Homo sapiens: one gene and its partners. The protein of the gene in region 1 binds, or shares a complex with, the protein of each later gene. Each region holds a gene or a part of one and is shown on either strand. Other genes may lie near its edges. A codon is read from its position in the direction of its gene.

What was found. The genes of interacting proteins can lie anywhere in the genome.
Region 2: the proteins of FGFR4 (region 1) and FGF23 are in contact, whole or in part, in a cryo-EM structure (PDB 7YSW), measured with the Homo sapiens proteins. Residues at the interface, in NP_001341913.1 of Homo sapiens: Glu156, Lys157, Lys158, Leu159, His160, Ala161, Val162, Pro163, Asn166, Asp240, Leu242, Glu243, Arg244, Ser245, Pro246, Lys272, Val273, Tyr274, Ser275, Asp276, Ala277, Gln278, Pro279, His280, Ala308, Asp309, Ile310, Ser312, Gly336, Asn337; in NP_065689.1 of Homo sapiens: Leu32 (codon at 4,402), Gly33 (codon at 4,405), Ser35 (codon at 4,411), Trp36 (codon at 4,414), Gly37 (codon at 4,417), Tyr43 (codon at 4,435), Ala45 (codon at 4,441), Thr46 (codon at 4,444), Ala47 (codon at 4,447), Arg48 (codon at 4,450), Asn49 (codon at 4,453), Ser50 (codon at 4,456), Ile75, Arg76, Ser77, Glu78, Asp79, Ala80, Gly81, Val83, Val84, Tyr93, His117, Gln118, Thr119, Asn122, Gly123, Tyr124, Asp125, Leu158.
Region 3: the proteins of FGFR4 (region 1) and KL are in contact, whole or in part, in a cryo-EM structure (PDB 7YSW), measured with the Homo sapiens proteins. Residues at the interface, in NP_001341913.1 of Homo sapiens: Asp266, Gln282, Leu284, His286, Ile287, Ile289, Gly295, Ala296, Asp297, Gly298, Phe299, Pro300, Tyr301, Val302, Gln303, Val304, Leu305, Lys306, Asn311, Ser312, Glu314, Leu318, Tyr319, Leu320, Arg321, Asn322, Asp327, Thr332, Leu334, Leu341; in NP_004786.2 of Homo sapiens: Ser539, Gln540, Phe541, Thr542, Asp543, Asn545, Val546, Tyr547, Leu548, Trp549, Asp550, Val551, His553, Ser554, Lys555, Arg556, Leu557, Ile558, Val563, Thr565, Arg568, Tyr571, Val573, Ala576, Gln579, Pro580, Glu625, Arg628.

The regions. Positions count from the first base shown.
Region 1 is NC_000005.10:177,082,087-177,090,125, reverse strand, and holds the start of FGFR4 (fibroblast growth factor receptor 4 isoform 1 precursor), read right to left. Parts: upstream 3,212-8,039; 5' UTR 3,049-3,211; intron 577-3,048; 5' UTR 524-576; coding exon 433-523; intron 1-432. UniProt on the Homo sapiens protein: Tyrosine-protein kinase that acts as a cell-surface receptor for fibroblast growth factors and plays a role in the regulation of cell proliferation, differentiation and migration, and in regulation of lipid metabolism, bile acid biosynthesis, glucose uptake, vitamin D metabolism and phosphate homeostasis.
Region 2 is NC_000012.12:4,376,368-4,383,890, reverse strand, and holds the start of FGF23 (fibroblast growth factor 23 precursor), read left to right. Parts: upstream 1-4,178; 5' UTR 4,179-4,308; coding exon 4,309-4,519; intron 4,520-7,523. UniProt on the Homo sapiens protein: Regulator of phosphate homeostasis. Inhibits renal tubular phosphate transport by reducing SLC34A1 levels. Up-regulates EGR1 expression in the presence of KL. Acts directly on the parathyroid to decrease PTH secretion. Regulator of vitamin-D metabolism.
Region 3 is NC_000013.11:33,011,973-33,019,767, forward strand, and holds the start of KL (klotho precursor), read left to right. Parts: upstream 1-4,468; coding exon 4,469-5,287; intron 5,288-7,795. Other genes in the region: translation initiation factor IF-2-like, read right to left, coding at 1,473-1,663, 3,864-4,470. UniProt on the Homo sapiens protein: May have weak glycosidase activity towards glucuronylated steroids. However, it lacks essential active site Glu residues at positions 239 and 872, suggesting it may be inactive as a glycosidase in vivo.

The DNA.
Region 1 (8,039 bases):
ACACACATACGGACACACACACACACAAGGCACATGCTGTTGGTGCCACATACAGGGTCATGCTGCACCGGGGCATATCACCCTCATAATGCTTATACCACACATGCTGCCTGGACCTCCTAGGTCACACACCCAGTGCACAGAACACACACACACACGCACACACACCCAGGTAAGGAGCTCACCACCAGCTCTGCAGCCCAGCTTAGGGCCCTGCGCCCTGCAAGGCCAGTCCTCTCTCGCAGACACAGTGATAGATGAATGCTTGCTGGAAGCCAGGCACTGACTGAGTCTCAGTGGTTGAGCCCTGCCCTGCCGCCACCTTCTCAGGGCCTGGGCAAGGATCCTTTCCAGCTTTGCTCAGCCCAGCAGCCCCCTCCTGGTGCCCACTCTTCCCACCCCTGCCACCCTCTCCCACCTCAGAAGCCATACCAAGCTCCACTTCCTCAGAGGCCTCCAGGGACAAGACTGGAGGCCCAGGCACACTCAGCAGGACCCCCAACAGGGCCAGCAGCAGCCGCATCTCCTTCTCACAGCTCTCAGGGACCCAAGCTGGACTTCCCACCAACTGCCTTCCTAAAATAGGGAGGGAAAAGAGCTCCTGCTACACGTGCACCTTTGTGGGGGCTTTTCCCTTATTTTGCAGATAAGGAAACTGAGACAGGAAGTGGCCAGCAGATGTGTCCAAGTCCCTGGCCAGGCTGTGGCAGTGCAGACTGGAACCAGCTCTGTAGTAGCCAGAGCCTAAGGCCTCCCCACGGTAGGTTGTGCAAGGGGTCTGGGCTGGGCTTCCTGCTCTCCCTGAGTCCTGCTGGGACCCTGGCACACGTTCACAGAAAGCAGTTTTGGGATTCTTTTTTGGAGGGAAGCAGAGAACGGAGACATATCTTCTGCATGCTCTCGGCACACATAATTTCTTTTTTGCTAAATAAATGAATTGATTGCAGAAGAGCCAAAAAAGAAAGTGAAAAATGACACAAGGTCAAACTTCAGCATCTGGATGGCATCTGATCCGATCCCCACTCCTTACAGCATTACTGACATTTCCAGGGCTGGGTGGTCACAACTGACAAGGCGGCCCCTTCCGTGGCAAGCAGGACCGCGACCCTGGATACCTCTGCTTGTTATGCACCAACTCCATCTGAGGCACACACGGTTTTGTAAAGAATACAGACCCTAATTTTCCATCTGCCAGAGCCAAGTTCAAATCCTGACTCTCACCAACTTGTAATTCCTTGTCTCTGTCTCTCTCTGGCTTACTATCCTCATAGGACTGTTTTGAGGATAAAAGAGAGAACGTGCGTCGGCACGCAGAGTGTTGGAATGTTCTCCTCCCTGTGCCCGGCCCTAGAACGGTTAACCTGTTGCCCTGGGTCTGCCCTTAGCCAGTCACCTCTGGTTCGGATGCTGTTACTGTCAGGCTGTGATGTACACACACCCCAGCTGGCTATCCTCTTCCAAATGCTACCAAGGACGCCTCTGTTCCCCAAAATAGAACACTCAGAACTGAGTCTCAGCTGGGACAAAGGAATCGGTGACCACTGCAGTCCTAGGGGCCTATGGGTGGCACTGGTGTCTCTGGATCTACCCTGCGTGGGAAGCCTATCACACCTCCTCCTCCTTGGTCACTGCCACTCCACTTCCAGTCCATCTGGCTTCCCCTGCCCCTTCTCAAGGCAGGTCATGGCCATCTCTTGCATGGGCCTCTGGAAACATCCTCTCCCTCGGCTCTTCAACCTTCATCTTCCAGCAGAGTTTTAAAAAACTACAAGTCGGCTGGGCGCGATGGTTCACACCTGTAATCCCAGCACTTTGGGAGGCCGAGGTGGGCGGATCACGAGGTCAGGAGATCGAGAACATCCTGGCTAACACGGTGAAACCCCGTCTCTACTAAAAATACAAAAAATTAGCCGGGCGCGGTGGCGGGCGCCTGTAGTCCCAGCTACTCGGGAGGCTGAGGCAGGAGAATGGCGCGAACCCGGGAGGCGGAGCTTGCAGTGAGCCGAGATCGCGCCACTGCACTCCAGCCTGGGCGACAGAGTGAGACTCCGTCTCAAAAAAAACAAAATAAAAAAATAAAATAAAATAAAAAAACAAACAAAAAAACCTGCAAGTCTGCCATGTCATGCCCCCCAGCTTGCAAGCCCTTAATGGCTACCTGTGCCCAGCAGGATCCAGCTCAACATCCTAGGGCTCCCTCTCTGCCGCTGCCTATCTCTTTGGTCACACCGTCTGCCCCTTCAGGAGCGCTGAAGCCATTGGCTTTCAAAACTGGGCACATGTGCTCTCTTGCCCATCCCTCTGTGCCCCTCATTGCTCTTCTCTACCTGACTCAGATACTGCTGTCTCTGGCCCACCTCAACTCTCGAATCCAGTCGGATCCTCCTTGGTAAAACTCCCTACCAAGCTCGGCTTGGCAGGGAGGGCAGCTCTTTGGGTACACAGCTTGGGCTGGGAGTGGGTGGGGAGGCCCGGGGAGTTTATTCCTACCCCAGGCTGCCCTGATATCAGAGTCCTTAGTCGAGTCACCCATGGCTGCTGACCGCTGACCGACCACCCCCCACGTGGGAATGGAGGGCCTGCCTTAGGCATCAGACAGTCCTGGGTTCTCCTTCAGCCTCCCGCACTCGCGCTGGAGGCCCCCGGGCACTAAGTGACTGAACTTTTCGGGGCCTCAGGTCCCTCATCTCTGCCGCCGGCGCGAAGACAGCCGCAGGGACAAGCGCGCTTGTCCTCCCCCACCCTTGCCGGGCCAGCCTGGGGGGAGGTGCGAATCAATGGGTCCCGAGGGTAGCTGCACAGGGCCAGCCTGCCCCCGCCTCGGTGGGCAATGAGTAACCAGCTCCGCGGCCGGGGTGCTCTTTGGACGGAGCGGGACAAAAGGCCCTGTGTGCACTGCGGGTTACTGATTTACCGCCCCCTCCACCCCCTGCCGCCCGGCGGACGCCCAGGTCCCCTGCGCCGGGAGGGGCAGTCCCCGTAGCCCCGCCGCCTCTCGCCCCCTGGCGGCTGGGAGCGCAGCCCGGGCCCACAAGGGTTCCGGCTCACCTCGAGCCTGCGTGACTCCGCGCCCAGCACAGGGTCCTGCTCACCTGGCTCCTCCTCACCTGGCTCCTCCGCCGCCTCACTCCCAGCTCCAGCCGGCCGCGACCCCTGCACGCGGCAGGGTCCGCAGACAGCCCGAGCGCTCCTCGGCCGGGAGCGAGGAATGTACCCGCGACGGCGGCGTGGCCGCGAGCGGCCCACCTCCTGTCCCACCCCGCCCCTCGGGCCCGCCCCCTCCTGCTCGGGCCCGCCCCTCCTTCCACGCCCCCCCCCCCCCCACCCGGGCCCGCCCACCTCCTGCCACACCCCCTCGGGCCCGCCCCGCCTAGACCAGCTCGAGCCGGAGAGAGGTGTGGCCAGGGGTGGCCAAGATCCCCGCCCACCTGGAGAGCCCCGCCCCCGACCCAGTCAGCCCACTCCCGGGACCCCGCCCCAGCCTATACACACACCCCTACACGCAACCCCCCTATACACACCCCATTCAGGCTCCGCCTCTTTCGCCCCACCCAGGCCCCAGGCCAGGCTCCTAAATTCTAGTCTACTACCCAGCTCTACTCCTTGCTTTTCACCCTTCAGGGAATGCCTGGCTCCCCTGTCTTCTGCGCAGTGCCGTGCAGCGGATAGGAGAACCCCTTCCTTCTGCTCCCTCATTTGTTCCCTGCGCAACCTGCGGAGTGATACTTACAACACAAATCTGACTGTGTCAGCCACTCCCTTAAATTTTCCTATAGATTCCCATAGCTCTTTATACATAGATTGCCATGACCCACGCCTCCTGGCTCCCACCCTGCTACTCCTGGGCAGTTTCACGTACCATTCTCTCTTCCTGGAATGGCCCTTGGTCTGGTTAATTTCATATTATTCTCAGCTCACTTCCTTCAGGAAGCCCTCTGGACTTGCAAGCTCCTCTTAGATGACGTCTCTACTGTGAGGATGGAGAAAGAAACAGGGTGAAGTGGTTCAGAGCACAGACTACAGGGCTGGACGTCATAGGCCCAGCTCTCAGCACCATCACACAAGGCCTCAGTCTTCACTGTCCTTTCAGTAAAACAGGCAAATGATAGTCTCACCCACAAGAGGTTGTTGCAAAAAGTAGACATGTTAGCAGTATGTGTAAGCCTGGCATGCAGCGCTTGCTTTGTAATACTAGCTGTAATTATTTAGGACCTGTTATTTCTTCAGCACGCTTGCCAGAATTGTAACTGAACAGTTAATTATGTAAATAGCTGTGGAATGGCCGGGCACAATGACGGGTGCCTGTAGTTCTAGTTACTAGGAGACTGAGGTAGGAGGACAGCTTGAATTCAGGAGTGTGAGGCCAGCCCTGGCAACATAGTTGCCCTGTCTCTATTTTTCAGTAGAGGAACTGTGTCCTCAGACCTCACCATTAGAGTTCAAGTGTCTGGCATACAGTAGGTGCTCCCAGATAGCTCCGTGCCCACCTGGCTCATGTTTGCCTCACCTGTAAGCACTTCTCTCCTGAGCATCTAGACTGTGGCCAAACCAGGAGGCCAGGCAGCCTCTGATCTCTGCCCATCCCTCACCTGAATCTCAAGCCTTCTCCTTCTCTTAAGGCACCTTGAGAGGAAGGGAAATGGGCTGGGTGCACCTGTGGTCCCAGCTACTTGGGAGGCTGAGGCCAGAGGATTGCTTGAGCCCAGGAAGTCGAGGCAGCAGTGAGCCGTGATCGCTCCACTGCACTGTAGCCTGGGCAACAGGCTATGGAGCGAGACCCTGTCTGAGGCTCAGGTCCTGGTTGTCCCCTCTAGCTAGTGTAGACCCTGTCTTAAGAAGCAACTTCCTTTCTCATTGTTACGCAGGCAAGTCTAGTTCTTTCCACCCTCACTCCCAAAGGGATAGTGGCATATCTTTGCATAACTGTAAGGCCCATTAAAGAGACTTAAAATTGTTTTTTTCTTTTTCTTCTTAAGCGAAAGAATGGTCTCCTCCCAAAGATAAATCAGAAAATAATTGAGGCCAGGCATGGTGGCTCATGCCTATAATCCCAGCACTGTGGGAGGCTGAATCGGGAGGATCGCTTGAACTCAGGAGTTCGAGGCCAGCCTGGGCAACATAGTGAGATCTCGTCTCTATTAAAAATATATATTAGGCTGGGCACGGTGGCTCACGCCTGTAATCTCAGCACTTTGGGAGGCTTAGGTGGGTGGATCACGAGGTCAGGAGTTCAAGACCAACCTGGCAAGATGGTGAAACCCCAGCTCTACTAAAAATACAAAAAAATTAGCCAGGCATGGTGGCATGTGCCTGTAATCTCAGCTACTAGGGAGGCTGAGGCAGAGAATTGCTTGAACCCGGGAGGTGGAGGTTGCAGTGAGCCGAGATCGTGCCATTGCACTCCAGACTGGGTGACAGAGTGAGACTTTGTCTCCAAAAAAAAAAAAAAATATATATATATATATATATGTGTGTGTGTGTGTGTGTGTGTGTGTCTGTGTGTGTCTGTGTGTCTGTGTGTATATACATACACACAGACACACCCACACATATATATGTATATTATAAATTTTTTTTTAATTGGTTATCTTTTAAAAACAATTTGTCCTGGTTCCCTTCTCTAGAGTCCTGCCTTGCTGGAGCTCCCAGGACAGATGAGGCTCCTGGCCCTGGGAGCTGCCTGCCCAGAGGGTACCTTGCCAGACCTCCCGGACTGCTGGAGGGGTTCAGCTCCCTGCCTCTGGCCCTCTGCTGGCTCCCCTTGTGAATGTGGTTGTGGGGGGAGACAGGGTGAGCCGCCAGCTGGAGCTGGACCCCACATGGCTTTCATTCACCTTCCCGGGCATTTCCTGAGTTTACCAGAGCCAAAGACAAACTAAAAGTTTTCATAGCTCAGGTCTTGCAACCTCCTTGTCTCCTGAGATGCGCAAATCCCTCAGATTTGCAACCCTCTGATGTCCCTAGGATATGTTCCCCATATCCCTTGTCTGCCTCCTCTCCCCGCACTCATAACCTTTCACACTGACCCTCCACAGAGGCTGATGCTCCCTCACAAAGTCATTCACTCATTCACTCATTCATCTGAATGATTATTTATTGAAGGTTCATTATGTGGCATCCACTGTTTTAAATCCTGGGGATAAAGCCCCGAATTGGACTCTTTTTCTTTTCTTTTCTTTGGGAGACAGTGTCTTGCTCTGTTGTCCAGGCTGGAGTGCAGTGGTGTGATCTTAGTTCACTGCAAGCTCTGCCTCCTGGGTTCAAGTGATTCTCCTGCCTCAGGCTCCTGAGTAGCTGGGATTACAAATGTGCACTACTACACCTGGCTAATTTTTATATTTTTAGTAGAGACAAGGTTTCACCATATTGACCAGGCTAGTCTCAAACTCCTGACCTCAAGTTATCTGCCCATGTCAGCCTCCTCAAATGCTGGGATTACAGATGTGAGCCACCTCACCTGGCCTGGACCCTACTTCTACCCTTCAAGGGGCTGCTGACATTGTAGTGGGGACAGACAGATAAGTAATCAGTTACAGCCTGGGAGATAAGCTGAGCCAGTCAGGGAGAGCACCTAAGCCTTTCACACTGTCTCACTCTCTTGCTGACACGCAATCTTTCACCAGTCACATTTGCAGTCTCTTTCTCAAAGACATTCAGACACGACTGGGCACAGTGGCTCACTCCTGTAATCCCAGCACTTTGGGAGTCTGAGGTGGGCGGATCACTTGAGGTCAGGAGTTCGAGACCACCCTGGCCAACATGGTAAAACCCCATCTCTACTAAAAATACAAAAATTGGCCAGGCATGGTGGCACACGCTTGTAATCCCAGCTACTGGGGTGGCTGAGGCAGGAGAATCACTTGAACCTGGGAGGCAGATGTTGCATTGAACCAAGATCACGCACTGCACTCTAGCCTGGGAAACAGAGCAAGACCCTGTCTCAAAAAAAAAAAAAAATACATTCAGACACACACACACACACACACACACACTCTCTCTCTCTCTCTCTCTCGCTTAGCAGAGGCAAGAGCCTGTCACCCTAAGATCCTGCTGTTAACCTGCCTCTGCCTCAGTTTCCCCACCCAGAAAGCCGTCATGCTCCAGCTTCCTCTTCTTCCTTTTTTTTTTTTTTTTTTTGTGGAGATGGAGCCTCGCTCTATTGCCCAGGCTGGAGTGCAGTGGCGTGATCTTGGCTCACTGCAACCTCCGCCTCCCAGGCTCAAGCAATTCTCCTGCCTCTCCTGCCTCAGCCTTCCTAGTAGCCGGGACTACAGGCGCCTGCCACCACACCCAGCTAATTTTTGTATTTTTGTAGAGACGGGGTTTCACCATGTTGGCCAGGCTGGTCTCGATCTCCTGACCTCAGGTGATCCACCCGTCTCGGCCTCCCAAAGTGCTGGCATTACAGGCGTGAGCAACGGCTCCCGGCTGCTCCAGCTTCTTTCTTCCTAGGAGTGTTGGGGGAAATGAACGTGTTCCTGTTCCTGAGCTCGTGACTCTTCAGCTCCCGTTACATGCCAGGCATCATGCTGGGTGTTGTACATGGGTTATATCCTTTAATTCTTCCACCAAGCCAAATGGCATAGGAATCCTTAGCTCTGATTTGTAGGTGAAGAAACAAGCTCAGGGAGATGGAATTACTTATTTGAGGTCATCTAGCAAGTGAATTGCAGAACTCGAACCCCTGTCTTCTGGGGCAAAGATGGAGAGCTCGGGATAACTCTCCAGAGTGGGATCATTGATGCTACTGCATCAGATGCTTTCTGTCTCCATCCTTAACTGTGGCCCGGGAAGGTGCAGATTCACCTGAAGGTGAGTGTGTTGGGGAGGGAGGTGTGGGGGCTGGGACTGAGCACTGCACTCCTTGACCTTTTAGCCAGCAGTCCTGAGGAGACACCAGGCCCAGGCAGGGGTTTGCAGACTCTGTGCCTCTGGAATGCTGGGCTGGGCCAGGAGGGTCTCCTGAGGCCAGGTCCTACCCCCCACCTGCCTGGGGGCAGAGTCATCGGGGGGTAGAGGGCAGACGTTGCCTGGTGCCA
Region 2 (7,523 bases), on another chromosome or scaffold:
GATCTGCCCGCCTCAGCCTCCCAAAGTGCTGGGATTACAGGCATGAGCCACTGCGCCCAGCCGGAATACAGATTCTTATAGGCCCTTATCTATACTAAGAGCCTTGATTCTATGAGCGTAAATGCAGGGACTAGACTTGATGCTTCCACACAGCTCCCGGGGCAAATTCTCTTAATGCCAGAGAAGTGGGTTCCAAACCAGGCTGGAGACAACAGGTTTCCCTGCCTGCCATGGGACCAGCCTATCTGCTGCATTCAGGTAGCTACCTGGGAACCAAGGACAGTGACGTCCAAACAGCACAAACCCAGGGCCTCCTCCCTGGGCTTCCTGTTCACAGCTGGTATCTATCTGTGTTTCTCTTTGGGCTCCTAAGGTCACACTGGTTCCCAGACCCTTGGACCTGAACTGTGACGGAGGAGTGCCCTCTAGGTGCAAAGGACAGGAACCGACATGTCCTGGCCTCTCCCTTCTCTTACCCACTGAAGCTTCAGAGGAGACCATGCACTGGACTCAAGGACAGGGTACTTGTCAGCACGAGGTACTGATTTAGCATTCAGTACTAAATTCCCTAGAAAGGCCCATTTACATCTTGACCTGCAGTTAGGATGGACATCCTAGAAGGGAACGGAAAGTTGAGCCTGCCACTGAAGAGGGCCTTAGTCTCTGTGTACTATTTCCAGTGCTTGATGTGTGGTTGGCGCTCAAAGCCTGTTTATTGATAAGTACTTTAGTATCAGCCACATCTGGTGTGGAGAATTAGAATCTCCCAGGTGGCTTTGAATAAAGTACAAATAACTGACTTTTGCCCCTGCAGATTCAGTAGGTCTAAGATTAGTCCTGGGGCAATTATGGCTTTAAAGCTCCACAGGTAATTCCAGTGAGCAGCCAGATTTGGAAGCCACTGGTAGGGAGTTCAGCCTGGAGCTGGACATTCTGCTGTCTCCGTGTTCCAATGGGCAAATCTTCATCTCCGCTCTCAGTGTTTCCCTATCTCAAATGGGGAGAATTAATCTGAGATTCTTGCGCCTTCCTTTACTCTCTCTAAGTGGGAAATGCTGCTTCTCCTCCCATCCTCCTTAAAAATAAGTCTACTCCTCTGGGCTGGACTCTGCCATTAGAGCCAGATGCTAAGCACACAGGGCTTCTTCTTGGAGGGGAGGCTTTGGACCTGGGTAAGCTGGCACAGGGCTCTCTTTCCTAATAAGACAAGCTGAGGTGGCCACGGAGGAGCCCCTTCCCCAGTCGCTCCAGGAGCTAGGGGAATGACCGAATGGCTGTGGACTTATCCCAAGACACCTGTGCTCCCTCTCCATCATGCTTGGCAGGTGCTGGGGAAAACCCTTCTCTGTGTATCCTACAAAGCTCCCTCAGTTCTCTCCTTCCCTCAAAGCCCTCCTTGACCACAGCATCTACCCACCATGACCTTTTTTTTTTTTTTTTTTGGTGACAGATCCTCGCCCTGTCATCCAGGCTGGAGTGCAGTGGTGCAATCTCAACTCACTGCAATCTCCACCTCCCAGTTCAAGTGATTCTCCTGCCTCAGCCTCCCAGGTAGCTGAGATTACACAATACGCCCAGCTAATTTTTTTGTATTTTTAATAGAGACAGGGTTTCTACTAAACGGGGTTTAGACAGGGTTTCACCGTGTTGGCCAGGCTGGTCTCGAACTCCTGACCTCAAGTGATCTGCCCACCTCGGCCCCCCAAAGTGCTGGGATTACAGGCATGAACCACCACGCCTGGTCAACATTTCTTTTTTGTGAAGGAGCTTGGTAAAAAAGTGCAGGCAGCAAAGCACTCCTCCATGATTCTCTCGGAAACCCAGGTCTTTACCCGGGGTGAATCTCTAGGGTACATAGTGCTTGTCTCCCCAGGGTTGTTTGGAAGATGTATGACATTAAATGTTTATGTATAAAGCAGGCTTCTTTAGTAATGGCCACAGAATGGTTTATAAATATAGTACCACATCTTCACTAATTTGCTCCTAGTAATGAAGCTCCTCCCACACAGTGCCTTGTATTGAACGAAGATGTTCCCTGCTCAGTTACACTGGGAGCCCCTAGAGGAGTTAGTCCTGCTTTGTAGTCCTACACCCTCCCTTTCATCTCTTACATGGAGAAGGTTCTCAATGGCTGCTGATTGCCTTATAATTACTTCCCATCTCTTTACCTTTCACAACCAGAATAAGAAATGCAGGGCAAATGTTCCTAAGTGATTTGCATCTCAATTCTGAAAGCTAGCTATTTCTTCAATTAGCTAAGACGTAGCATTATATTTATAATCCATTCTGTGGCTATTAGTAAAGAAGACTGTTTTACATATAAACATTTCATGTCATACTTCTTCCACTCAACCCTGGGGAGACAAGCACCATGTGTCCTAGAGATTCATCCTGGGTAAAAGCCTGGGTTTTTAGAGAATAACAGAGGACTGCTTTGCCACCTGCACTTTTTTACCAAGCTCCTGGCTCTCATGGCTTTAGCTCTAACATGTTGTATGGGTTTGGACACCTTGAAAAGTGCTTAGGAGGTCTTGGGGCCAGACCTGGATTCAAATCCAACCTCTTCCACATGTTACCTTTCTATCTCTAGGCAAGTTACTTAAACTGTGTGCATAGATCAGTTTCCTGATCTATATAAAGAAAATAACAGCATCTCCTCAAAGAGTTATTCTGAAGATGAAATGGGTTACTACAAGTAAAGCACTTAGAGCAGTAAGTGGAACAGTAAGCTCTCCATGAGCGTTAGTTCTTGCTGTGATTCTTTGGAGAAGCAGCCTAGGGAAGGAGAAGACCTTGTCCTGGCTCTACCATTTATTTGCTTTGTGCCTTTGGACATGGAAACACTAAGATTTCCATTTCTTCATGTAAAGTATTAAAATCTTGATAATGCATGGAGTGCCTATCTCACAGAGTGGCAGTGAGGTTCAAATAAGCTAATAGATGTGAAAATGCTTTGTAAACTATAAAAAAAAACTGTACAAATGTAGGGTAACAAATGCCATCTCTTTCTGTCTATACCTGTAAGCTTGCACTCATTTTGTATTATAGTTACTTATTTTTATCTGCCTCCTGCATTAGATTTGAGCTCCTCAAGATAGGAATCACATCTTGCTGTCTCCTATATCAACCTGTACATGAGTCTAGCTTGATGCCTGTACATGGCATATACTCAGTACAGGGAAACTGGAAGAATAGCAAACTCCTTGTGTGTTTTTTCGGGTGTGTGTTCCAGTAGCTTGCTCCCCTTTAGACTGTATGTGCCAGGACTATTCCACCCGACATCAGGTGTAGCTTCCCAGAGGGCTCACTGTGAACAGCATCTGCAGGCAGGCATCCAACACCAAGCTGAGCACTCATGTACAGACACTAAATGTGGGGACACCCTGTCCTGAGGCTCGGATCCCCAGTGCTCAGCCAGCAGCTGTTCCAATCCCCATGAGGTCTCTGAATGAGTCTCCTTACTACTGGAGAGACTACTAGTTTAGTTGCCCTCGATAGTCCAAACTAGGGAAATTGAGAAATTGAACCTTGGCATATTCAGTGAAGTCCAGACTAAGGAAGCTGAGAAACTGAACCTTGGCATGTTCACTGACCTCAAGGCCTTACTTCTTTTTCTTCCATTTCAAAATCTTCCCAAAATGGCAACTTTGGCTTTTGTGCCCCTGCTCCTAGCTCCCATCTTTCATGAAGTGGGTGTTCTTAGAGGATGCCATCTGCCTGATGGTGTCATGTATCTCTATATCCTGCAAGCTACCCACCAAATCCTGCTCACAGATTAAGCACTGGATACATACTTGCTGATTGGAATTTAAAGAAAACCAAAATAAGTAAACTCGACAGGAGATTAATTGCCTAGGAGTCGGTTGACTGCTTGACTGAAGCTGGATTTTTTTTGGGAACCGCTGGCTGCCTTCACATTTCCTGATGGAAGTGGGACAGGTCAACAGACAGCCCAGAGTGGCAGATAACTTTTGCCCACACGTCATTCATTTTTTGGAGCGTTGGCTTGAAATTGAGGGGTGTGTGTGTCTGGAACCGACGTGCCTTCCGTGCGCCTCCGGGGTCTTTGCACTTTCTTTCAATGGGCTGATTACAACACAGAGGATGTGGACAGTGGAGTTTTTCCTGTTTGATGTCACACTGCTACCCTTTAAAAGTCTGACGGCAAAAAGGAGGGAATCCAGTCTAGGATCCTCACACCAGCTACTTGCAAGGGAGAAGGAAAAGGCCAGTAAGGCCTGGGCCAGGAGAGTCCCGACAGGAGTGTCAGGTTTCAATCTCAGCACCAGCCACTCAGAGCAGGGCACGATGTTGGGGGCCCGCCTCAGGCTCTGGGTCTGTGCCTTGTGCAGCGTCTGCAGCATGAGCGTCCTCAGAGCCTATCCCAATGCCTCCCCACTGCTCGGCTCCAGCTGGGGTGGCCTGATCCACCTGTACACAGCCACAGCCAGGAACAGCTACCACCTGCAGATCCACAAGAATGGCCATGTGGATGGCGCACCCCATCAGACCATCTACAGTGAGTAGGGCTTCAGGCTGGGAAGAAGGGGAGCACCCTTGTTGTCCATCTACAGGAGGCTTGGGGAGGTTGGGGACTAGACTGGAGGGCTAATCCAACCCTCCTAGCTTTCTGCCCAGGAACCACTTATTGTCTTTGTGTGTGTGTGTGTTTGTGTGTGTGTGTGTGTGCGTGTGTATTTAAAACTTAGGGGAAGATTCTGTCACTCTCCTAATTAGCATTTGCTGGTTTTTCTCAATATGAATAATTTTTATTTCAACTAAAACCCTTCCCACAGTAGGAGCCATGTTCCCTTTGCCCCGTCAAAAGATTGAAAAAATGTACAGAAAGAAAGGCAAGGAGTCTAAGAGAAAAAGAAGCCAGGCAGATCAACAGACACTAAGTTTCAGCTCATGGACTTTGGACTGGGTTAACTAGGGAGGTTGTAAAGATTCCTGGGTCATACCCAGATTGTTATAGATAAATCTGGGGGCTCTTTCCAACTCTGGCCTTATAAAAATTCTTGGAAAAATGTATTAAAGACAGACTGTCCATGTATGTTGTCTTGGTGAGAATGGCCAAGTATACAACCCATCCACCCATTCATTTGTCCATGCATCCATCCATCCATCCATCCATCCATCCATCCATCCATCCATCCATCCATCCAACAGGTTTAATGGGTGTTTCAGACACCCAGGTACCCAGGTACCCAGTATGAGTTGGTGATTCTTCTCTGTGGAACTGAAAGGTGTCCAGTCAGTAGCAAGTCAAGCTAGTTAGAAACTTATTGGCAACATGAGACAACTGGAATGTTTTTAAAGATCAGGTTTGTGGAGAATTGGATCACAATCCACAATAATCAATCCATTAGCAATGATTCAAATGAGGGTCCCTTTGTGTGCACCTATATAAGGGGTAATGTGGTGAAAGCAGGGATAGATATTGAAAAAGACTGGATCTTCTATTTTAAGAAAACGTGAGAAAACACCTCAAAGCATACAGAAAAATGCAAACTGATCCAATATAGCTCAAATTAAAGGAAAGAAAAATTAGTTAGACAATCTCTAACTAAAGAAAACATAGGAATTATGATTTGCCCTTTATTGTTGTAATAAATAAATTAATTATTTTTGCTGTGACCTTGCTGTGTGTGAGGCATTTATTCTTCTAGGCTCCAAAGGTCCTTAAACCTGGTTGCAAGATATACAACATGCAAAATTAAGTTGCAAGATATATAACATGCGAAATTGACAGTTTAACCTCTTCAAGTACTAAATGCATATTGACAGGAGATAAAAGGAGAGAGGAAAGTTCTCTCCGAATACCAAACAGGTTCCAGAACTCCAGAGAATATAGTAAGACTCAGGAGTCAACATCTTGGAAACCAAGTTTGAGTCTCATGGCAAAAATTTCAATTAAATCTGGATACACTTGATGCACCCGAAGTGTTGTTCATTTTATTCAATGGATATTTAATAGGATCTACCATGTGCCTGGCATTCTACCAAGCGCTGTGGCTGAAAACTAAGACACAACCCTTCAAGGACCTCATGGTCTGTCGTCCTACCTTGTCAGCCAGCTCACTACCAGACTTTCAGGAAATGCAATTTTGCATGTCTCATGGAGGGGACACCCTTACTCTAATTCAAGACTATATGTGGGCCAGGTGTGGTGGCTCACGCCTGTAATCCCAGCACTCTGGGAGGCCGAGGCAGGCAGATCACGAGGTCAGGAGATTGAGACCATCCTGGCTAACACAGTGAAACCCCATCTCTACTAAAAATACAAAAAATTAGCCAGGCGTGGTGGCAGGCGCCTGTAGTCCCAGCTACTTGGGAGGCTGAGGCAGGAGAATGGCGTGAACCCGGGAGGCAGAGCTTGCAGTGAGCCGAGATTGCGCCACTGCACTCCAGCCTGGGTGACAGAGCGAGACTCCATCTCAAAAAAAAAAAAAAAAAAAAAAAAAAGACTATATGTGATTTAAAATGCAGAATAGTAGATTATGGTAAATTATTTTGATTCTCTTAGATGGAAAGGGCTGCATCCAACTAGAGAATGTTTATACAACTTGTCTCGAATCCTGGAATCCCGTTGCTGAAAGGAACTCCTTAAAGACGTTTCTTCCTGAACAAGAATTAGGGTAGAACAGAACAGGCCGGCTACGGTGGGGAGTGAGTGTGAAGAGTCAACCTCCTGGGCTGGCAGTCTGAACTTAGACCTTTTCCTTGAAAGCCCACCTCGTATCAGGCCCCAAGGGATCACTGAGTGCTAGTTAGAGTGAATTAAAATGACTGAGAAGCAGCAAAATAAATTGAACTGACTTCAGATTTTTAAAAATAGAAATGTGATTTTGTTTCCTTAGACATAGGCACTAGCTAAACATTGCATCTTTAAAGAGTTAAACATGAATGCGGGGAGGGGAACTTCGGGTCAGGGTAGTGGGAGGGAGATCTACTTTTCCTAGTCTATGTAGATAACTTTTTGTACTGTTCAATGAGTTGTCATGTGTATTATGGGAAAAAAAAAGTGCAGGAAAAAATTACACACTACAATTAAAAGTTACCCAAAAGAGGCCAGATGCGGTGGCTCACGCGTATAATCTCAGCACTTTGGGAGGCCGAGGTGGGAGGATCACTTGAAGTCAGGGGTTCGAGACCAGTCTGGCCAACATGGGGAAACCCTGTCTCTACTAAAAATACAAAAATTAGTGGGGTGTGGTGCCTGCCTGTAGTCACAGCTACTTGGGAGGCTGAGGCAGAAGAATCGCTTGTACCCCAGAGGTGGAGCTTGCAGTGAGCTGAGATCGCACCACTGTGCTCCAGCCTGGGTGACAGAGTGAGACTCCGTCTCAAAAAAAAAACGTTACCCAAAAGAAAGAGGAAAGATTAATGCATGTAGATAAGAAGCACAACTAATTAAATGTCTGGTGAAGGATTTGTAATGACCTCATCAGTGACTGTTAAGCAATGTTTTTACACTGATGGAAACCTAAAATGTGAGGGGTATTTTTTCCCCTCCTAAT
Region 3 (7,795 bases), on another chromosome or scaffold:
CTATTACGGGTATATATCCAAAGGAAATGAAATCGGTATGCCGAAGGAATATGTGCATTGTGTTGTTTACTGTATTACCATTCACAATAGCCAAGATAATGATTCAATCTAAGTATCCATGAACAAACAAATGGATAAAGAAAATGTGGCATATATCCACTATGGAATACTAGTCAGCCTTACAAAAAAAAGGAAATTCTGTCATTTGTGATGACATGGATGAACCTGGAGGGCATTATGTTAAATGAAATAAGCCATGCACAGAAAGACAAATACTGTATGATCTCAGTTATATGTGGAGTCTGAAAAAGTTGAACTCACAGAAGCAGAGAGGAGAACGATGGTTGCCAAAAGATGAGATGTGGGAGTGGAGGGGTGGGGAGATATTGCTTGAAGGATGCAAAATTTCAATTAGATGGAGGAATAAGCCAAGAGATCTATAGTGCCACATGGTGACTATAGTTAATAACAATATATTGTATTTTTGAAAATCTCAGAGTAGATTTTAAGTATTCTTCTTTTTCTTTCTTTTCTTCTTTTCTTTTCTTTTTTCTTTTTTGAAACAGACTCTTGCTCTGTTGCCAAAGCTGGAGTACAGTGGTGTGATCTCAGCTCACTGCAACCTCCGCCTCCCGGGTTCAAGTGATTCTCCTGCCTCAGCCTCCTGAGTAGCTGGGATTACAGGTGCCTGCCACCATGTTGGTGAATTTTTGTATTTTTAGTAGAGACAGGAGTTTCACCATGTTGGCCAGGCTGGTCTCGAACTCCTGACCTTAGGTGGTCCACCTGCCTCGGCCTCTCAAAGTGCTGGGATTACAGGTGTGAGCCACCACGCCCGGCCAGATTTTAAGTCTTCTTACCACAAAAAAAATAAGTATGTGAGGTAATACATACGTTTATTAGCTCAATTTAGCCACTCTACAAATGTGTATATATTTTAAAATAACATGCTGTACATGAAAATATATATAATTTTTTGTCTGTTAAAAATTAATTAATTAATTAATTTTAAAAAGAGGAGGGCAGGGAATACTTGTGTATTTTGTTAACTGGACAAATGAAACTCTACTTTCATTTGCTCATTAAACAAATACTTGTTTTGTGCTCAGCATGATTCTAGGCACTGGGACTACTGCATTTTGGTCCATTACTTCCTTGCGCACAAAAACCCTTTCTTTTCACCACGAATACACTATGAACATGTTTTTTTCTTCAGTGTTGGCATCTCTTGATTCCTTCCCTCCAGGTCTTTGTGCGAGTTTTACTCTTTAAACCCCAGATATTGTCATATTTTTCTCTGTTAAACTTTTCCAAACAACTCAAAATAGGGTAATTTCTTCTTCTTCTGAATTTCTCTGACAATTATTCTATGGGTCATTTATTAACACAGCATAATCAAACAACTTATTTATTTTCATCTTTCTTGATCCTTTCTTCAGTTGGATGTTGTCTTTGAGGGCAGAGGTTGTCCTCTATGTTTTGAAGTCTCCACACAGCTCGTCGTTGCCTTGCCCGTAGTTGTAGCTCAGTGAAATAAAAATATGTCCGTAGAAGGTGATGTCTGTGACTGGTGAGCTGAGAGCTTGTGGGGTTGGTGTTGTATTTGGGTGCATGTGAATCAGTGCATCTCCTGCTCCATTGGTGTTAAAAGGCTCCCATCGTCCTGGGAACACAATAGGAAAGAGAACAGGTGGGAAGGCACTGGATGAAGGAATGTGGAGAATGGAGGAAAAGTTGATCAGATTGTTGACAACTTTCAGTGTTGAAATTGTCACCAAAATCAAAGTCAGTAAATAAATTTACAATGTCCTTTTCTTCAATGCATCAATAACTTCACCTTCCTGTTCAAAGCACAGCAAGTAATTAATCTCTTATTTGCATTTGAAACCCAAGTTTCAGATGTTTGAAGGTGGTTGTAAAAAATAAAAACCAAAATAAAGCCAAAATAAATAAGCAGCAGCACTAGGCCGGGCACAGTGTCTCACACCTGTAATCCCAGCATTTTAGGAGACCGAGGTGGGTGGATCACAGGAGATCAGGAGTTTGAGACCAGCCTGGTCAGCATGGTGAAACCCTGTCTCTACTAAAAATACAAAAATTAGCCAGGTGTGGTGGTGTGCCCTTATAATCCCAGCTACTGGGGGGCTGAGACAGGAGAATTGCTTGAACCTGGGAGGCAGAGGTTGCAGTGAGCAGAGACCATGCCACTGCACTCCAGCCTGGGCGACAGAGTGAGACTCCGTCTCACACTTGTGGAACCCAGAACTTAGTAACCATGAACAGAACCTTAATAAACAGAAAGTTCTGGAAATAAAGTTTAATCATCATGCAATCTTTATCACTGGGTTAAATGAACAATCATCTGGGAACATGTCTTGGAATGCTTAAAGCTTTGAGATGCATGTGCCTATGTGGCAGACAAATTTCAAATGTGAAACGTTTAGTTAACTTGGTCTTGCTTTTTAATCACTGCTTTAAAATTTAAAAAATGCTGCTGGTCAAGTAAAAATAGCAATAGATAAAATCTGCCCTGAGCAAACAGACCATACATCAATAAATGAATACTTAGCTTAAGCGATTTTCCATGAGACCCATGAAGCATTTCTAATTGAAACTTAACAAGCTACAACCCAACAGACACTCCAATCTTCACTTCTAGAAGGGAAATGTGATACTCCATGTAGACGTAGCTTTTTAAATTTAGCTGGAAGACAGCGTGACAGTGAAGTTGTGTGCTGTAATTTTTTAAAATTGCTGAAGTGTCATGGTTTGCTATTTCGTATTTATTGAAAAAATGTAAATGCTATATTTAACAGAATGGCAGTAACTCTGTTTCAATCTGAAGACTTAATCTTACTAATCATGGTAATATATGCTGGCTGGAGTTGGGAATATTTCATAAAATACTGGAATAAATTTGTGCTTATATTTCAGGGGAATTAATAAAAGCACCTTCATCTGCAACATTTAAAATGTTATTGCCTTTAAATTTGTATTAAATAATGCAGGGAAGATAGATCACTGGGGGAGAATGGATGCACCTCTGTGAGGATCTTGGTCATTCAACACACGTGTACGGGTGAGGAAACTAAGGCACGACTTACTGGGTAGGGAGGTAGGGATATTAGCAAGATCCTTCACTTGTCTGGGCTTTCTGTCTTTGAGTCACCTTTGCGCAGTTTTTCACTGGACTTCACAAGCCTCTGAGGCGGCAGGGCAGACAGGACATCCTTATTTTATAGAGGAGGAAACTTAGGCTTACAGAGGTTTCCTGCCCCAAATCACAAAGGTGGAGCCTAGACCTTCTCAGTCTCCACCAACTGTATTTCGGTTAGCCACAATCCTATCTACCCACATCCAAATGGACACTGTGGCTCTGCAACTTCTGTCAAAAGGGCTCTTTGGCAACAGGAAAAACGTCATGGCTCCATTGTATTGTAGAGGATGGGAATGGGTGTTCCGGCTAAATTCTCCCTCCCCTTTCCCTCCACAGCTCAGATGGCAAATGTGCGACCCAGGGACCTCCCGCTCCAGCAGACCTGTGCGCACAACTTTGCACAGATTACCTGCTAAGTCAGAGCCGAAAGGTAACACAGATGCCAAAGGATAATAAAGGTGAATGAGATTTACTCAAAATTGGAAACTTGGTGTTTGGTTTTTCAGGAGAACAATCAACGACTGTGATTTGAAGTTCACCAGGGTATTCTGAGAGATCTAATCAAAGATAGAGTGCTGGTTTGAAATTATTAAAAGGTAACAGTAAAAGGGAGAGCAAAACCCCAGTCCCAACGCAACCCATAAATCTACTTTGTCTTCCTCGAAAGAGGGGCGCGGGTGGGCGCGTCTCCCCGCGAGCATCTCACCTAAGGGGGAATCCCTTTCAGCGCACGGCGAAGTTCCCCCTCGGCTGTCCCACCTGGCAGTCCCTCTAGGATTTCGGCCAGTCCCTAATTGGCTCCAGCAATGTCCAGCCGGAGCTTCTTTGGGCCTCCGAGTGGGAGAAAAGTGAGAGCAGGTGCTTCCCCAGCGGCGCGCTCCGCTAGGGCCCGGCAGGATCCCGCCCCCAAGTCGGGGAAAGTTGGTCGGCGCCTTTTCTCCCCGACGAAGCCGCTCCAGGGCTGCTCTCAGAGGACGCGCGGCAGGCAAAGAGAATGAACCTGAGCGTCCACGAAACGTCCTGCACGGCTCCCGGGAGCTGGGAGAAACAGGTGCCTTTCTCCGACGTCCGCGGGCGACGCCTGCCGCACCTTGCCCGCTGCCGCGCCCCTCCCGGGCACCCCTCGCCCTCGGCGCCCCTGCCCCCGCCCCCAGTGCCAGGGCGGAGGCAGTCCCGGCTCGCAGGTAATTATTGCCAGCGGAGCCCGCCGGGGAGCGGGGGTGGGCGCGCCGGCGGTGGGCGGGCGGGCGCGGCGGGGCGCGGGCATAAAGGGGCGCGGCGCGGGGCCCCGGAGCCTGGCTCCCGCGCAGCATGCCCGCCAGCGCCCCGCCGCGCCGCCCGCGGCCGCCGCCGCCGTCGCTGTCGCTGCTGCTGGTGCTGCTGGGCCTGGGCGGCCGCCGCCTGCGTGCGGAGCCGGGCGACGGCGCGCAGACCTGGGCCCGTTTCTCGCGGCCTCCTGCCCCCGAGGCCGCGGGCCTCTTCCAGGGCACCTTCCCCGACGGCTTCCTCTGGGCCGTGGGCAGCGCCGCCTACCAGACCGAGGGCGGCTGGCAGCAGCACGGCAAGGGTGCGTCCATCTGGGATACGTTCACCCACCACCCCCTGGCACCCCCGGGAGACTCCCGGAACGCCAGTCTGCCGTTGGGCGCCCCGTCGCCGCTGCAGCCCGCCACCGGGGACGTAGCCAGCGACAGCTACAACAACGTCTTCCGCGACACGGAGGCGCTGCGCGAGCTCGGGGTCACTCACTACCGCTTCTCCATCTCGTGGGCGCGAGTGCTCCCCAATGGCAGCGCGGGCGTCCCCAACCGCGAGGGGCTGCGCTACTACCGGCGCCTGCTGGAGCGGCTGCGGGAGCTGGGCGTGCAGCCCGTGGTCACCCTGTACCACTGGGACCTGCCCCAGCGCCTGCAGGACGCCTACGGCGGCTGGGCCAACCGCGCCCTGGCCGACCACTTCAGGGATTACGCGGAGCTCTGCTTCCGCCACTTCGGCGGTCAGGTCAAGTACTGGATCACCATCGACAACCCCTACGTGGTGGCCTGGCACGGCTACGCCACCGGGCGCCTGGCCCCCGGCATCCGGGGCAGCCCGCGGCTCGGGTACCTGGTGGCGCACAACCTCCTCCTGGTGAGTGCGAGGGGCCAGGCGGAGGGCCACGCAGGGGAGACAGAGGGCCTCCACAGGGGCCAGGGGGAAGTGTGGGAACTGAGTCTCCCCCAGACGAGGCTTCACTTGGACACGTGTATGTGGTCACCGGGGGAAACTGAGCAGTTCTGACTTCCCTTGGAAGGCGTGGAATTAGGAGAGAAATCCCTTAGTGGGCACACGAGTGAGTGCCCCTTGGAGTCCATCTGTGGAAAGGAAGCGGTGATAGGTTTCCGCAGTGAGGAAAGAAACTCCTTTCTCTGGGTGTAGAGGAATTCCTAGAGGTGAGGGCGGGGAGGATTTGCTAGGAGTAACTGCAGGAAGAGAATGAGCAGGGTGGATGAAAGAAACACGTTTGTTCTTAAGCCGCACAGATAGCATTACTCTCTGGAGCTGTCACGAGTTCAGTGTTAATCCAATAAGATCTGTCTTGCTTGTGGCACAAGTTCACACTGTTGTGAAAGTGTCAAAACACAACTCCCGGAGAGTCAGATTTAAACTGTGTTTGGAGGTCCCTTCTGCGGCAGGGCAGGGAACTGCATCCACCAATCTTATTCACCGGGGTGTGAAGACCGCTTTATACAATCTCAAACAAAGCTAGTCATAGAAACACAGAAACAACTGCAGGGTGATATAGATTGTTCTACCACATCTATATTTCCACAGTGCTCTCTACAGTTGAAAGGGTTCCTCACTTATGACATTGTTAGCCTGATAAAATTAATTGTAACACCCTTGTGCAAAATATTTTATTAATTTTGACAGCAGGAAATATTGCTATGCCATGGTAAAGTTGTCTCAAGTATTTCTTCCTCCTTTTTTCTCCTTAGTGTTCAAATTTAGGCACCATTGTTTTGGGGATTCATTTATAATCATGTCAGTTGTTAGTACACTTTGTACAGAGTTTTGTATCACAATAAAATATTTTATGTACATGTATAAACATTTTAATAAAAGTGTTTAAATGTACAACTTTTGGTACCCAATTCTGATCACTTGTGGGCCTACTGGAAGACTTATTTTTAAATTTAGAATTCAGCCACATATTCTGAACAAAGTCAGTACTAAAACCATTTCTAAACACTTTTAATTAAAGCCATAGATAATATGGGCAGAGCAGTACTGGGTTATTGAGGTGACTTAGTGCTCTGAGCTGCTGGTAATGTTGTAATAATGGCTAAATTAGATTTTATGTCAGTTCCACAAAACCTGTTTGCTGCTACTGGCCATAAAAGAATGTTGGATTTGTTTGGAAACACATTGTGATTTTTGTGATTTCATACTTATGTATGTCTTTTCATAAGGATGTTTTAGAGCGGTGATTCTTATACTTTTTCAATCCTTTTATGGATCTGAAAAACTCTAAAGACCACCAGTGTATGGCTGGTGATAGAAAAACTATGGGAAGAATGGTCTCACTTTTTGAAGAAAACATAAGCAAGTTATCAGTTCATACTGGAAGCAAATAAATGGATCAGCTGGAGGATCTAATAGATCATGCCCATAAAATCTTTACTTTAGATTTAAATCCTACAAGTTCTATTTTTAGAGTCCCTAGGATAAACTTGCATATACAAAGTAGTCAATTGTTATTATAGTGACTTATAGGATCATTTTATTATAAGATAAAGACTTGCGTGCTCTCTGGTGCTCTGGTGTTTTAAATAATCAACATGTTTTAGATCTTTTTGCCCACTCATGGCCCTCTGATTAACTTCTCAGTTATATTTTTCAATGCTTACACAAAAAATTTGCCAAACACTAACCATCCTTCCTAGAAATGCAGTGGACTTTGTATTTAGGGAAATTAGTAACAGGTGAATGCTCCATTTGCTGATGTTGCAAACAAACTGTTAGTTGGTGTAAAGTATTAATTTTGCTTTCACATTTCTTTTGGTTTGGTGTTTAGTCATTCTTGTATCTTATTTAGAAGCGAGTTCCCATTGTCAAAGAAAGTATCTTGAATTAATTTTGTTGTATGAGATACTTTCATTCTGTTTTCAATGACCTTTCTCGGTGTGTATATAGGGGTTGGGGGAAGCGAGAATAGAAAAATTTGAGCTTACCTGAAAAAGATAAAACATTCTGCAGATTTTGATAAAAGGGCATTTTAGCTGGGGCTTAGATATTGCTGCTGTACAGATATAGGGGCCAGTTGTGTTCCGGGATCTGATGTTGGTGAAGGATAAAGACTGGCTAGCACCCTTCCCTCACTCCCTCTGTGTTTCCACTAACTTACAAATGGGCTAAGGAGATCCCCTGGGATGATGGGAAGCTTGACCCCTCCTAGAGAGTCAAGAATCATTGATGGCCTGGAGGACAGGAGGCAGAACAAACAAACAGCAGGACAAATAATGGAGGCCCTGCTCAGAATGGAGGTCTTGGTGTTCTTTGTGGGTTCCTCATACTGGAGTGAGCCTTGGCAAAAATGGTGTGTGTGTGTGTGTGTGTGTGTGAGAGAGAGAGAGAGAGAGAGAGAGGAGACAGAAG